Linked DNA regions of Homo sapiens. The protein of the gene in region 2 interacts with the protein of the main gene of each other region in a pairwise test. Each region holds a gene or a part of one and is shown on either strand. Other genes may lie near its edges.

Region 1 (7,025 bases), on a different chromosome or scaffold from region 2:
TTAAAATGCATATTTCATAAGCTTAAGAAATGCATTTGTATTTTATTCACCGAATTACACAAAATAAATATTTCACCTCTGAAAAAAATACAAAGAAAACCGAACTTAACTATTGTTGCTAGACTGATAGAATTAACGGAAACAAGGCAGATTGAACTGGGTCCAATGAGATATCAATTCAAAGAGAGTCTGGCATAAAGAAAAGCTGTGTGTAAAGCAGGCAGGACAAAAACATATCTAGAGAATGGAAGAAAAAAGGTAATTCCACTTCTGGGCACTAAGGTTAGTATAGAATTGATATGTACATAATGTAAGTGCATGTATACTACAATGCCACATTAAACTATTTTGCTATACTCTGTTTAAATGTAATAGAACAGGATAAGATACTTCTTGGAATGAACTAGCATTGATAAGTCAAACTACACTCAGAACCTGAATATAGTTTTCTCTCCTGAATTGGAAAGAAGCCTTCAAAAGCAACATAACAGCATCAAAGCCAGAGATAAAACTGCAATTCCTCTTGACTATTCTACAGCAAAATCATCCTTGTATTCATTGTTTTCTTATACCCATCAGAAGCTTCTACTTACCTAATAAAAGATTTGGTTGGATGAATTTCATAGACAATGGGATCTTCACGGTAACTGAAGATGCTTGTCTCTCGGTTGGCTAAGTCAATTTTCAATTTAACAGCAAACTCAGTTGAAATGGTTTGGGCTGGGGTATAACATTCAAGAATACTGTTTGACACACTGAACAAAAAAAATTAAGGAAGTGAATTTTAGCTATTAGAGATACACATATTTTAGAATTATATCCACAAATCAAAAGGATATAACTCAATGGTTCCTAAGTGGGAATTTCCTGAGTGGAAGCCTTTTCTAGTGTAGGCTGTTTAATCTGACTGGATCTCAAACTTACCTTTGTTGTGGACAAGCTATCCTTGACTGGAAAACATTTGAGATTTGAAAAAAAAACCTTTAAAGTACTTTTGGTACTTGATTAAACTGAGCTCTTCCAACTCTAAGAAGCAGAAACATAACTGTCTTCCAGACCCAATTTTCCCCATTTCTTCCTTCCCCAGAGTGACTTAGTCTAATTACAAATCTTGATGAAAATGTTTATTTTAAATTATTATCAATGACCAGACTCTCACAGCTCATAGTATAGCTAAGATCCTAAGCTATAACAATAAAGAGGGTGGATGGGAAGACAAAACTGAAAAGTAGGATTGCTAAAAAACAAGAGAAAGGAAGAAAAATCAGCAAAAGGAGTAGATGAATTTTGGAAGGAGGAAGTTTTGTCAGTAGGAGAGTAAACAAATAAACATCTTGATTTTTCTTCTCCACACACACACACAAAACAATCTGCTTAATTTTTAAGGTACAGATATTAATTCAAATTGACAGATGCAACAAAAAATAAATTTACAACACCTTTTTAAAGTACATGTTTTTCCACCAATTGAAATGTGTCTAGAATTCCCACTGTTTAGGTAATTTCCAGTTAAAGTAAGTAAAGTGCCACCAGCCATAGGACCGTATTTCGGCGAAATACTTGTTATTACAGGATCCTGGAGGGGAGATAAAAACAAAACAAAGTAACTTGTTCATCTTATAATTTAAATAGATTAAGTAAAAATCAAACATGATAGGATAGAATCTTCCTTACCACATAGGAGAATGTACTGTATTGTGTTGTCCCGTGGCCATTTGAAATAATTATGGACATATTGAAATGCTTATTCATGGCAGGACCAACTGTGCATTTCAATCTGGAAAAAAAACCCAAAGTTTAATACATGACAAATCCAAGGAATTTTCTGGTTAGGTTGTTTTATAGGAAGTGACATTAACTCTAAATGGTGAGCTGACTGCTTTGAATAGCAAGCAGAGTTTCAAGATAAGCATTAAGGCCAAAAATTATATAATCCTATTTCTATACTATGATAAACTTAACTTTTATTTTTATGTAAAAAGAGACAGGATCTTGCTCTGTCACCCAGGCTGGAGGGCAGTGGCATAGTCATAGCTCACTGCAGCCTTGAACTCCTGGGCTCAAGGGATCCTCTGGACTCAGGAGTTGGAACTAGAGGTGCATGCCACGGCATCTGGTTAATTAAAAAAAAATTTTTTTTTTTTTTTGGTAGAGATGGAGTCTCACTACGTTGCCCAGGCTGGTCTTGAATTCCTGGGCTCAGGTGATCCTCCTGCCTTGGTCTGCCAAAGTGCTGGGATCACAGGCGTAAGCCACTGCACCCTGCTTATACTAAACTTTACATTAATGGTACTATAGCACTTATACAGACAAACAGGAAATATCAGACCTTATCCATAAAGACCTCACCAGTTGAATAGTGCATAATAATCTAAGTTTGGATAATATTAATATTTGGGGATAATCTTTGGTCCACTTCAGATGCATATGAAACAATGGGCTAACTACAAATAGGCCAATCTCTTCATTAAAGTATGTCAACAGGTACATTTCTGTGGTTATACTTGTACATGCTTATTTAAATTACTTAAATGATAATGAAATTGTGATGGCTTTCCATAGAATTATTTCTGAATGAATAATCATATAGTTCTGAGAAAATTTAAATACAATTTGATTTATTAAATAACTTTTTAAAGGAGAGAATGAATTATGCTTTACTTTTACAGGTCCTGATTTATATGCAATGATTAAGAGTTTTGGAGATTTTACAAGGGAGATTTCTAGAAAAAATTTGTTTTGCCATTCAGCTAACAAATATTACCTTCATTAGTGTTTTGGTCTCAGTAAAATGGATAGATTCGGACCTTTGTGTAACCCTGAAATGAATTCTATTAGATATAAAATAACCACCTGATAGAATGGGTTCAATCATAAAGATTCAACCATAAAACTTTAAATATTTGAGTGTTGTTATTATGTGATAATGAATAATTTCTGGATTCTCTGATGATTATGGAATTCAAAGCTTGTAGAAGGGTACATGTAGAATACAGTAGAACTAGCACGGGTCTTGGATCAGAAGATGATCAGAGCTGAGCTGAAGGCTTGTTCAGCTCTTACTCTCTGGATTACCTCTGTGAAGCCACACTTCATCTCTCTGAACTTCAGGTACCTCTTTTATATTATAGGAATGATACTGCTCCCTCCCAGGACCGTGGGGATGGTTCAGTGAGATACAGCCCATATATTGCAGTGCCAGTAAATATAAGCTGAATATAAATTTTAACTCATCTAAAAAAGTCTCAAACACGTGATTCAGCTGCCTCACTACATTTCTGAGGTTTAGAAAGTGAATTTAAAAGAGAGGATCCATGCTGAGCTGTTTACTGATTTCTGTAGAAAAAGCCTTTGGAGACTCTACATTTGAAGACTCCAAGGATGAAGTGATCCCAACTAGTGCTACTCTTGCAAATCTACTCAGACAACACCTGAAGACTTGTCGCATAAATGGTTGAGAAACTCCCATTTCTGGCCTCTTCTCTTCACCTAGGCCATGTCACCTTTCTCTCTCTTCAAATCCAATGAGTAAATGGGATTACAAGAACAAAACAGAACAGACCCACAAGGCATGTGACAGGCCAAGACCCTTTTTAATTCAAGAGATGAGCTTCTTGAGCAATTTTAAAAGAAATATTCATTCAAAAACAAAACCTATTTTCCAAGCACACCCCAGCAAAGCATTTTAAGATCCTTACGTATTCATCGTGCTCTCACTTAAAGTCAAGGTGCAGCTCTCATTTCCAAGGAGAACTCTAGTTTTCTTTAAATCAAATTTATTATTCCTCCGAAATCCAAAGTCCCAGCCACATATGGTCAGCCTTGTCCCTCCTTCAAGGGGTGCACTATTTGGGAAAACCTACAAGGACAACATAGAACTTTTAAAAAAACCCAATATATTATAATTTTTCACATATATGGAAAACGAACAAACAAAATGTATATCCTTAAATAGTCTGAAATTCTTTCATTTTCCCACAATTTAGTAAAAATTTAATTTTCACTAAAGGGAAAAGGGTCACAAATTTCAGAGCATCTGGAACAAACATTAAAACTACATGACATGTTAATGAAACAAGTTGTTTTCAGGAGATCCAAAGATGGGACAAAGAGCAGATGCAGCTTGGTAGGAATAAAGGGGCTTTTCGAGTCCTTCCGTTCTTTCTTTCTTTTCTTTCTTTCTTTCTTTCTTTCTTTCTTTCTTTCTTTCTTTCTTTCTTTCTTTCTTTCCTTTCTCTGCTTCCTTCCTTCTCTTTCTTTCTCTTTCTTTCTTTCTTTCTTTCTTTCTTTCTTTCTTTCTTTCTTTCTTTCTTTCTTTCTCTCTTTCTCTCTCTCTCTCTTTCTTTCTTTTTCTTTCCCTCCCTTCCTTTCTTCCTTCTTTCTTTTCTTTTCTTTTTCAGACAGAGTCTGGCTCTGTTGTTCAGGCTGGAGTGCAGTGGCGTGATCATGGCTCACTGCAGCCTCAACCTCTTGAGCTCAAGCAATCCTCCCACATTAGCCTCCTGAGTAGCTGGGATCACAGGCGTGGGCCACCATGCTTGGCTATTTTTTTTTTTTCTAGAGACAGGGTCTCACTACGTTGCCCAGCTGGTCTCAAACTCCTGGGCTCAAGTGATCCTCCTGCCTTGGCCTCCCAAAGTGCTAGGATTACAAGCATGAGCCATTGGACCTGGCCCTTTTTGGGCCATTCTGAAGTGAATTCATCTTCTAGGGCTCTTTAGGGTAGGAGTAGAAACACGTTGGGCCCAGACTTTTACTTGCTCATAACTCTGATTGTAACTCTTCATCAGCCTTCGGACTGAGCTCTTATCAAACTCCTTCATGTGCTCTATAAGCCAAGGTCCAGCCATTATACGCCTTGCTCTGTGCACTGGCTGCGTGCACTACATTCTGGTTGCTATGGTATTCCCCACCCAGAGACAAAAGTTGCACAGTAAAAATACCTCATTTGGTATCCAGTGTTTGCCCAGTTGCATTCAGCAGCTAGCATAATATGAAACATATAGATGGTTTTGGAACACATATCTGCCAATAATTCATTCATTCATTCATTCATTCATTATTTACTTATTTACTTTTAGAGATGGGGGTCTCACTCTTGCCCAGTCTGCAGTGCAGTGGCATAGTCCTAGCTCACTGCAGCCTCAAACTCCTGGGCTCAAGCAATCCTCCCGCCTCAGCCTCTCTAGTAGACAGGACTACAGGTGTGCGCCACCTCACCCAGCTAATTTTTAAATTTCTGTAGAGACGGGGTCTTGTTATGCTGCCCAGGTTTCATTAATTATTTCTTAATAAAGCACCTCCTATGCACCAGGCACTAACAAATGAAAAGTGAATCTACTTCTTTTTACCTATTAGTTCACATTTATTAATGACTGAAGATTTTTCCTTGTTCTTTAAATATGGTCACTATTTGATGTATACCAGGCTGGTTAGTTGACACACTCAGCCTTTTAAAAATTATGTAATATTTAATACATGTGTTATGTTGTTTCTTTTAGAAATAGATAAAAACGGAACCAGAGAGGGCCCAAAATCAGTATTGTAACAATTTTTCCTAATTATCTTCATTGGTATTGTTTTATATCTCATTTTTAGGATTAAATTTTTCCCCCTGATGGTTGATGTTAAGCAAATAACAGACTCATTTTGTTATTGCAGACTCATTTCTGGTATGTTATCAATGGATTTATTGATAAACCTTGGTCAGTCATGATTTAAGACCGCATTAGGCACCTATAAAGTGTGTAAGATAATTGCTCTCAGGCTAAAACTATTAAAACAAAACACATTTCCAAGTTAAAAATAAGCTTCTTCTCAGCAGCTTTGTGACAATTGAGAAAGGAAATGCTCTTTTGGGGGTGGGGACATATTGTAAATTGTGCTGTAAAGTACAATGGTGGGAAAACTAAGATAGAGGCAACTCAAGAACCAGTAAAGGTATTTGCTAAAGCTCAGCTTGTGAACATCTAAAAGTGATTCTTTTACAATTAAGAAGGGCTTTTAGCCAAATTCAAACTTGCAAACATTTCCATCCTTCCTAAGTAAATAATTGCAAACCAAAGTCTTAATGTACCCTCGTTATCAAACCCCTTTAAAGTTTTAGCTTAAAGCTTTTATGATAGCCATTTTACCCATAAAAATCCATTACACTGTTGTGCCTTTCCTGAAAATTTACCTCATCCATGTCTAGTCAAATGAGAACTACTAGAAAAATAAATCTGTTTATTATTATTATGGTAGAAATCCAGTAGGAGAGAACAAGACATCCAACCCTCCCAGGACTCTCTTCAGCCTGAGGCAGTCACACAGCTGCTGCCGGCTCTTCTAATGAGGAGGCTTCCCCACTGAAAACGCTGCCCAAGGCTGATGTTGGCCTGATCCCACTGCCTACATCCCGTCTTTCTATGTAAAAACTGAAGTCTGTCACTCTACACACATCATTACCATCACTTTCTATAAAAGGCAAACGGATTGGGTGATGATTTGAGAAAAGACGCAGAGAGCTGCGCAACTGGGGCACTGGCAATAGGAAGAGATATTATAAGCCCTCTGCTAGACCCTCAGGATCCAAGAGGCTCGCTCTGCTTAGCTTTTCTCTCTGGGCTGGGCATTTTCCCCTTAGCTTATGGGGTAACCTTTACCCTTCTAGGGAAAAAGGAAGGAAGCAGTTGTGAACTACACACCCTTGGATAGACCCAACAATGGCTGGCAAACTCTGAGTTATCCTGAAGGGCAGAGAAACTCTGTGGGCAGGAAATGAGCGTCCGGCATAAAGCCACAGAGGCTGGGTCTCCTACCTGTCTGGATAGGGGAGATACAGCCACAAAAGTAGCCCTTGTCTTTTCACAGGTGAAAGATCACATCACTGATGGGCCCATTCCAACAGTATTTTAAATGATCATGCTTTCAAAACCCATTAGGATAAAACATGAGAAAACTAAAAAACAAAAACAAAACAGAACAAAAAAACTCCAAAAGGGGTCTCCTTTCCTCTTTAGTAGAACTCACAAATATATTTACTG
Region 2 (7,025 bases):
TGAGCACAGGATGAGGCCAGCCAAGTCTCCTGTAACCCCCATAAGCCACCTGCAGAGGCTGTCTGAATTCTTTCAAAGAAGAAATGACCACAATTTAGGTTTGAAATATCTTTTTGCAATAGATAATCTTATTTACATTAATACAGAATCATTTTACATTCCTAAATCAGACACTAATAGATGCTTTATTTTAGTGAATTATAAAGGAAAACAAAAAGGAAACTGTTGAGAAGTGTTCTTCATTAACCTGTCTAACGACAGCCCGAAGATCCTGAAACACATGGAAACTGCGACATGCTACCAGCAGAGGCTGGGGAATGGGGGTTCTGCTCTCACTGAATGGTGGGGAACCTTCAACTGCTTAGCCTGTGCTTTCCTTTTCTGAATCAACATTTACAAAGGAAAAAACAATGATTAGCACTGAATAATTTAAACACACTTCAGAAAATAGATGTCAACAGTGTAAGTGGGAGAACCAAGCCCCTGACTAGCAACAGTGGCAGGGCTTCAGTTCCCAAGGCAGCTGAAGTCTGGCCAGCACAGTGCTGCAATGGGCTGTGGCTCAGCAGAAGGGCAGGAGCCCTCCATGCCTGGCTTACAACAACAGGACTCAATAGTCAGGGACAGGCGGCCATCCCGGATGGGGTGGGAGCAAGGACTGTACATCCTGACAAGGATCACCACCCACACGGTCAGAGCAGAACCCCCAGGGACTCTCTGGGCCTCTACGTGCCTCCCAGGCACCGACTGTGCAGCTGCTTGGTACCCCGGGAATAAAAACTAACTGAGCAGAGCAGCTGATGCCTCGGCAGGGCCCCTCATTAGGGGAGGACGGTGCTGGTGGGGCCTGGGGGCCCCACGCTCCCAGTGAAGACAACCTGTCAGGAAGAACTCATTCTGGAACCTCCCGGAGGTTTGCTGAGAAGGAAATTAATCACTTCGTAACTTGATGCAGCTTAAGGCTTCATTTCTAAGCTGTAAGCATGGCCTTTAACTAAGATATCCACAATATTCAATTCCAAATTAGAGTTTTAGCCCTGCAAGAGTCTAACCATCTCCCTCTGCCTGAGCCAGGGGCCGTCACCTACCAATGGACAGGAAACTGCCACCAGCCTCTGGGGCTGCATCCTACTGCCCGGGCTGTCCACTGTGACCTTTCCGTGGAGAGAGGTGTTGTCCCATGATTTTGCTGTTGCCAAGGCCGTCCAGAGGCTCTGCGGGTGGGAGCTCAGTGCTGCTGTTCTGGAATCCTCCCGTCTCCCAGGTGCCCTGGCCCTTGGAGGGGCTGCTGCTTCCCGGCCTAGTTTCCAGTGGATCTTTTTCCTGAGCCAAAGAGATAGGCTGTTACCTTATACTCAACATTTCAAGGGAACACACCCCTGTGGGGAGCGTCTGTTAATCCCTGGAAAGCAGCTGTGCCAAGAGAGGGGCGAGAACCCCACTTGCTGAGATGAGCATAATAAACCAAAGTGGGTCCCAAGATGACACGGCGAGCAAGCGCTACCCCTGGAGCAGCCCCCAGGCTTGCACAGCCCTGCGCTGTCCACGCAGGAGGGCAGCTTCCAAGCAGGCAGGACGTGAGGAGATCTGAGTTCTAGGCCTGGCTCTGCCTGACTCGCCCTCTGTGACCATGGGCAAGCCGGACCCACCACTGCAGGGGGGCTGTACAACAGCCCCAGCATCGCCACCTCCCCAGGAAGAAGACACAGCCAGAGGCTGGCCGCGGCAGCCCAGCCAGTCCTGCACTACAGGCTGATTGCCACGTCATCTATTCCCTAGGCTGAGAGGCCAGCTCCTAGTGGAGCTAGGTTTACCACACCTTGGACTGGCACCTGTTCCAACTCCTGGGGGTGGGGGCACAATATTGGTTAAAGTGGGAGAAAACCAGGATTAGTTCACAGAGGAAAACAAAGGGAAAAAAAACCTCCAGGGTTTTCCTACCTCGGCTGGGATATCATGAGGTAAACATTTTCTTAAGTTTGGAAAGGAATCCCTCCTCGTCCTCCCCAGCCTCACGCCTAGCCTTGCTTCCTGCGGAGCTATCCATGGTGCTGCCACCTGGGCACAAACAGCAGAAAGAACTGGCGTCATGGGCCTGCACTTCCACAGTCACATCCCAGGGCCCACCTACCCCCGCCTGGCCACCCAGGGGCCCACGTTCAAGAAGCGGCCAAGTGCCACCTCAAGAAGAGTGGGGGCCACTCCTAAGATGGCACAGGATGCCTCACCTTGCAGACGACTGAGGTGAACAGGCCACTCAGAGCCTGAGGGTCTCCCAACTGCTCTTTCAATCAAGGACCCACAGCAGGGAAACAAGAAATAGAGACGGACTATGACAGCTGTCTCTATCTGAGCAACAGTGACAAAAACACAGTCAAGTGCCAGGCACCTCCCAGGCCAGGCCATACACTTCCTTACAGGCAAATTTCACAGATGAAAAAACAAAAAAAGGAGGCACAGAGAGGTTACAGGGTTTACCCAAGGCCACAGAGCCAACAAGCGGGAGGGAGGACTGAGTGCGAGCCCATGCAGTCTGACTCCAAAGCTGAGACTCAACCACCATGCTGTTGGCTATAAGAAGGTAAATAATGACTGCCAAGAAAAACCCTACTCTAGACCAACTGGCCAGATTCCATGCTGCTGTGTGCGCAAAGACCCTGCAGAACAGCCCATGTGGGAGTCACGGCCACGCACAATCCTTTGTCACAGGCACTCCATCTCATCCCTCACATCAGCAGTCTATCTCCCTGAGCAAGTTGTCCCCATTTGGGGCACCTAACCTAAATGCTCTCAACCTAGGGAAGCTGTGCTGCAATTTCTTTAGGGCCCAGGCTGACACCATCTAGAGGTACTTTCTCACACAAACGTGTTACAGATTTGCCAACTACTAGACAAGGAGTGCACACTTTTGTTGTGAGTTAGAATATAGACCTGAACTTGGCATGTTAATTGTAGAGCTCATTTTTAATGTGCTCAGAGACCTAGGCCACGCACAGTGCATAAAAGAGTAAAGGCCTCAGTCTAAGTAAGAAGGTGCCTTCGCTAGTGAAAGGTCCAAAGTTTGGGGCCACAGGTCCCCGGGAAGGGGTGAGGGAGGCTACATAAAACAGAGTGAGACCCAGTCTCAAAAAAGAAAAGGCCGGGCACAGTGGCTCACGCCTGTAATCCCCGCACTTTGGGAGGCCAAGGCAGGCGGATTGCCTGAGCTCAGGAGTTCGAGACCGGCCTCGAACATGGTGAAACCCATCTCTACTAAAATACAAAAAATTAGCCAGGGGCGGCATGCACCTGTAGTCCCAGCTACTCGGGAGGCTGAGGCAGAATTGGTTGAACCCAAGAGGCAGAGTGCGTTGCAGTGAGCCGAGATCACGCCACTGCACTCCGGCCCGGGTGACAGAGTGAGACTCCGTCTCCAAAAAAAGAAAAAAAAAAAAAGAACAACAAGGAGCCATACTGTGTCTCTCACTCAAAAAGTCACATAGTAATTGCAAGCCCCCCCAGTTCCCTCTCTGTTCGCCAGAAGATGGACCTGTTTATCCCTGCAAGTGCTGAGTCTCTAAGCACACCATGGTCTTTCTGGGAGACCGGGGTCAGCTCTTAAGGTTTTCAGCAGCTACATTAAGATACTAAACGCATCAAAAACTATGCTGGTCAGGCACAGTGGCTCATGTCTGTAATTCCAACACTCTGGGAGGCCAAGGTGGGAGGATCACTTGAGTCCAGGAGTTTGAGGCTGCCGTGAGCTATGACTGCACCACTGCACTCCAGGCTGGGCCACAGAGCAAGACTCTGCCTCAAATAAATAAATAAATCCCACTGTTGCTTAAGTTCTTAGGACATGAGAATTATATGTCCTGTAATACTGTCATATGTGGATGCAAAACTAACTGTCTTCACAGTATAATGAGAGACTTAACCACCCACAGGCAGCAGACTGACATGTGACGGTGTATGCTTAGGGACAGAGTCTTGCCCTGGCACCCAGGCTGGAGTACAGTGTCGCTGTCATGACTCACCGCAGCCTTGAGTACTAAGGCTCAAGTGATCTTCTCATCTCAGCTTCCCAAGTAGCTGGTGATAGAGGTGCATACTACTTTGCACCTGGCTAGTTTTGAAATTTTTTGTAGAGACAGAGTCTCGCTATATTGCCCAGGCTGGTCTCGAACTCCTGGGTTCAAGTGATCTTCCTGCATTAGCCGCCCAAAGTGCTGGGATTATAGGTGTGAGCCGCTGCATCCGGCCTCACCAAGATCTTTAAAAGGAAGAGCTGACAGTGTCTTGCACACAGGAGAAGACATCCTGGCTGAGTGAGGGAACAGCTGAGTGAGGCTGAGTGATCAGGACAAGTAACCATGGAAGTGACAAAGGATCTCAGTGGGTGGCGGAATCAACTTTCAACTTACAGTATCAGAGAGAGGGTCAAAACATCAACTGGTGACCAGTAATACCCAACCTCCAACAGAGTAAGCAACACCCACGAACCCACCCAGGGCCCGGCCGTAGCACACCTCAAGCTACCCTGATGGGCGGGAGGAGGGAAGGACAGCTGTCTATGGAACCAATCTCGCATGTTATGTGATTGTAGGGTTTGAGGAAGGAGAAGCCACAGGTGCACTGATTAGAGTTCCGGGGAATAGCTACTCTATTACCACTTCTATTTTAGTTCAAGAGATACAACAAGAACAAAAGATAGTATACATATACACAGTATATGTACCAAACCATTAAAATAAGTGACATTTGGAACCTGGTTGGGCTACAGAGTTTTGTGGCAGCTGCTTTTTTGTTGTTGTTTTTTTGAGACAGAGTCTCGCTATGTCACCCAGGCTGTAGTGCAGTGGTGCAATCTTGGCTCACTGCACCCTCTGCCTCCTGGATTCAAGCAATTATCCTGCCTCAGCCTCCAGAGTAGCTGGGATTATGGATGCCCACCACCATGCCCCGCTAGTTTTTGTATTTTTTTTTTTTTTTTAGTAGAGACAGGGTTTCACCATGTTGGTCAGGCTGGTCTCAAACTCCTGACCTCGTGATCCACCCTCCTCGGCGTCCCAAAGTGCTAGGATTACAGGCGTGAGCCACCGCGCCAGGCCCTTTTTTTTTTTTTTTTTTTTTTTTTCAGAGAGTCTCACTGTCACCCAAGCTGGAGTGCAGTGGTGTGGTCTTGGCTCACTGCATCCTCTGCCTCCTGGGTTCAAGCGATTCTCCTGCCTCAGCGTCCTGAGTAGCTGAGATTACAGGCATGCACCACCATACCCAGCTAATTTTTGTATTTTTAGTAGGGATGGGGTTTCGCCATGCTGTCCAGGCTGGTCTCAAACTCCTGACTTCAAGTGATCCACCTGCCCCTGCCTCCCAAAGTGCTGGGATTACAGGCAAGAGCCACTGCGCCCGGCCGGCAGCTGCTTTTTAACAGAGGAATTCCAGTCCCCTGGGAGCAACAGGAGCTCAGTGAAATTCCAGGGACTTCCATCCCAGCCCCTGCCCCTGCCCCTGGAGCTCCAAATCCTCCACTTTATTGGAAAATCGGCCCCCAGCTCCAAACACCTGCTACGAATTACCATGCACTAATCTAAGGCTGCTCAAGTTCTGAGAACTCCACCCAGGATCCAAACAAAAACAAAATGATGCAATGAGGAGGAAATACATGCCGCCTGAACCAAGGACCCCTGGGCACAGCCTGCCCTGCCCTGAGCCAGGAGTCCCAGGAAAGAGGCCCCAGACCCCATGGGAAGAGGGGCTGCAGCTGGGGTGCCATTGTCTCAGCGCCCACAGCAGGTGTTCTGGTGACAGATCCCTAACACAGCCACTCGCTAGCACGATGTCTGAGCTCAGGGTAAATGGTGCATCTGTTCACGGCTAGATAACTTGGAGGGAGTCCTGCTCTAAAGCGGCGGACGGAGTCTGCTGACTGCGGCTCCACTGCTGTGGCTGCTGTTGTTTTAAGACACTCTGAAATCCTGGCGGAGTGTCCCAGGTGGGAAGTGCACAAATCCTTCCAATCCATGCTCTCTCCTTACGCTTTTGCCAGGAGCTCTCAGGGAAGGATTTGTCCGAGGTCACAGGGCAAGTGGCAGAACCAAGAATAGAACTCAGAACACTGGGTCTGAGACACGCAGAGCTGCCTGCAGGAAGTGCCCTGGTGCTCTCACCTCAGCACAGAAACACACACAGAGAGAGGAGGCGAAGCTTGGACTGGGGGCTGCGGCTCCCTGCCCGCTGTCCCCGCCCACAGCCCCCCTCTTTCAACTGCACATTTTAAAGGCTTCATGAAGAACCCGAAGTGGAAACCCCAACATGCTGCCCTGAATTGTCCATACCCTGGGGGGCTCTGAGGCCCCCACGTGTCACCATGTAGTCTTCAGACTCCTTACCAGAGCTGGTGAGGGTGACGCCGTTCACCGTCCCCTCCACATCTGTCTCGTCCTCGGCGTAGCTCAGGATCAGGCTCTGCTGCCGGCTCGTTAGCCTCCTGTGGACCGAGCAGAGTCAGCAGCCAAGGCTTCCGCCGGGAAGCTTTGGAAAGAACTCACAGGCAGCCAGCACCCTCGCAGCACATGGGAAGAGAGGGACCCAACCTTGGCAGGGGCGGACACCCTGAGCCAGTGCAGCGGTGAGAACCTAAGGACCATGCCCTCAAAGCTTCTGTACAGAAAAGCTCCTAAAACACCCTACACTAAGTCATTTAAACAAGTGTCACTGTGGCTATGCTAAATACAGTTTACAGGAGGGGAAACAGATTTTACCAGTGTGTATGTGAAGCAAGTAAGAAATTATCTAATTAGGCCAGGCGCAGTGGCTCATGCCTGTAATCCCAGCATTTTGGGAGGCCAAGGTGGGCGGATCACAAGGTCAGGAGATAGAGACCATCCTGGCCAACAAGGTGAAACCCCGTCTCTACTGAAAATACAAAAATTAGCTGGGCGTGGCGGCACATGCCTATAGTCCCAGCTACTTGGGAGGCTGAGGCAGGAGAATTGCTTAAATCTGGGAGGTGGAGATTGCACCACTGAACTCCACCTAGAGAC

What was found. Proteins that work in one complex are often made in the same cells at the same time.
Region 1: the proteins of DNAJA3 (region 2) and MET interact in binary tests that used the Homo sapiens proteins (3 or more experiments, as listed by UniProt).

Annotation. Positions count from the first base shown.
Region 1 is NC_000007.14:116,752,189-116,759,213, reverse strand, and holds part of MET (hepatocyte growth factor receptor isoform b preproprotein), read right to left. Parts: intron 3,860-7,025; coding exon 3,699-3,859; intron 1,778-3,698; coding exon 1,675-1,777; intron 1,577-1,674; coding exon 1,440-1,576; intron 756-1,439; coding exon 594-755; intron 1-593. UniProt on the Homo sapiens protein: Receptor tyrosine kinase that transduces signals from the extracellular matrix into the cytoplasm by binding to hepatocyte growth factor/HGF ligand. Regulates many physiological processes including proliferation, scattering, morphogenesis and survival.
Region 2 is NC_000016.10:4,449,844-4,456,868, reverse strand, and holds the end of DNAJA3 (dnaJ homolog subfamily A member 3, mitochondrial), read right to left. Parts: intron 6,470-7,025; coding exon 6,372-6,469; intron 2,059-6,371; coding exon 1,955-2,058; 3' UTR 1,942-1,954; exon of another isoform or gene 1,941-1,941; intron 1,324-1,940; coding exon of another isoform or gene 1,301-1,323; 3' UTR 94-1,300; downstream 1-93. UniProt on the Homo sapiens protein: Modulates apoptotic signal transduction or effector structures within the mitochondrial matrix. Affect cytochrome C release from the mitochondria and caspase 3 activation, but not caspase 8 activation.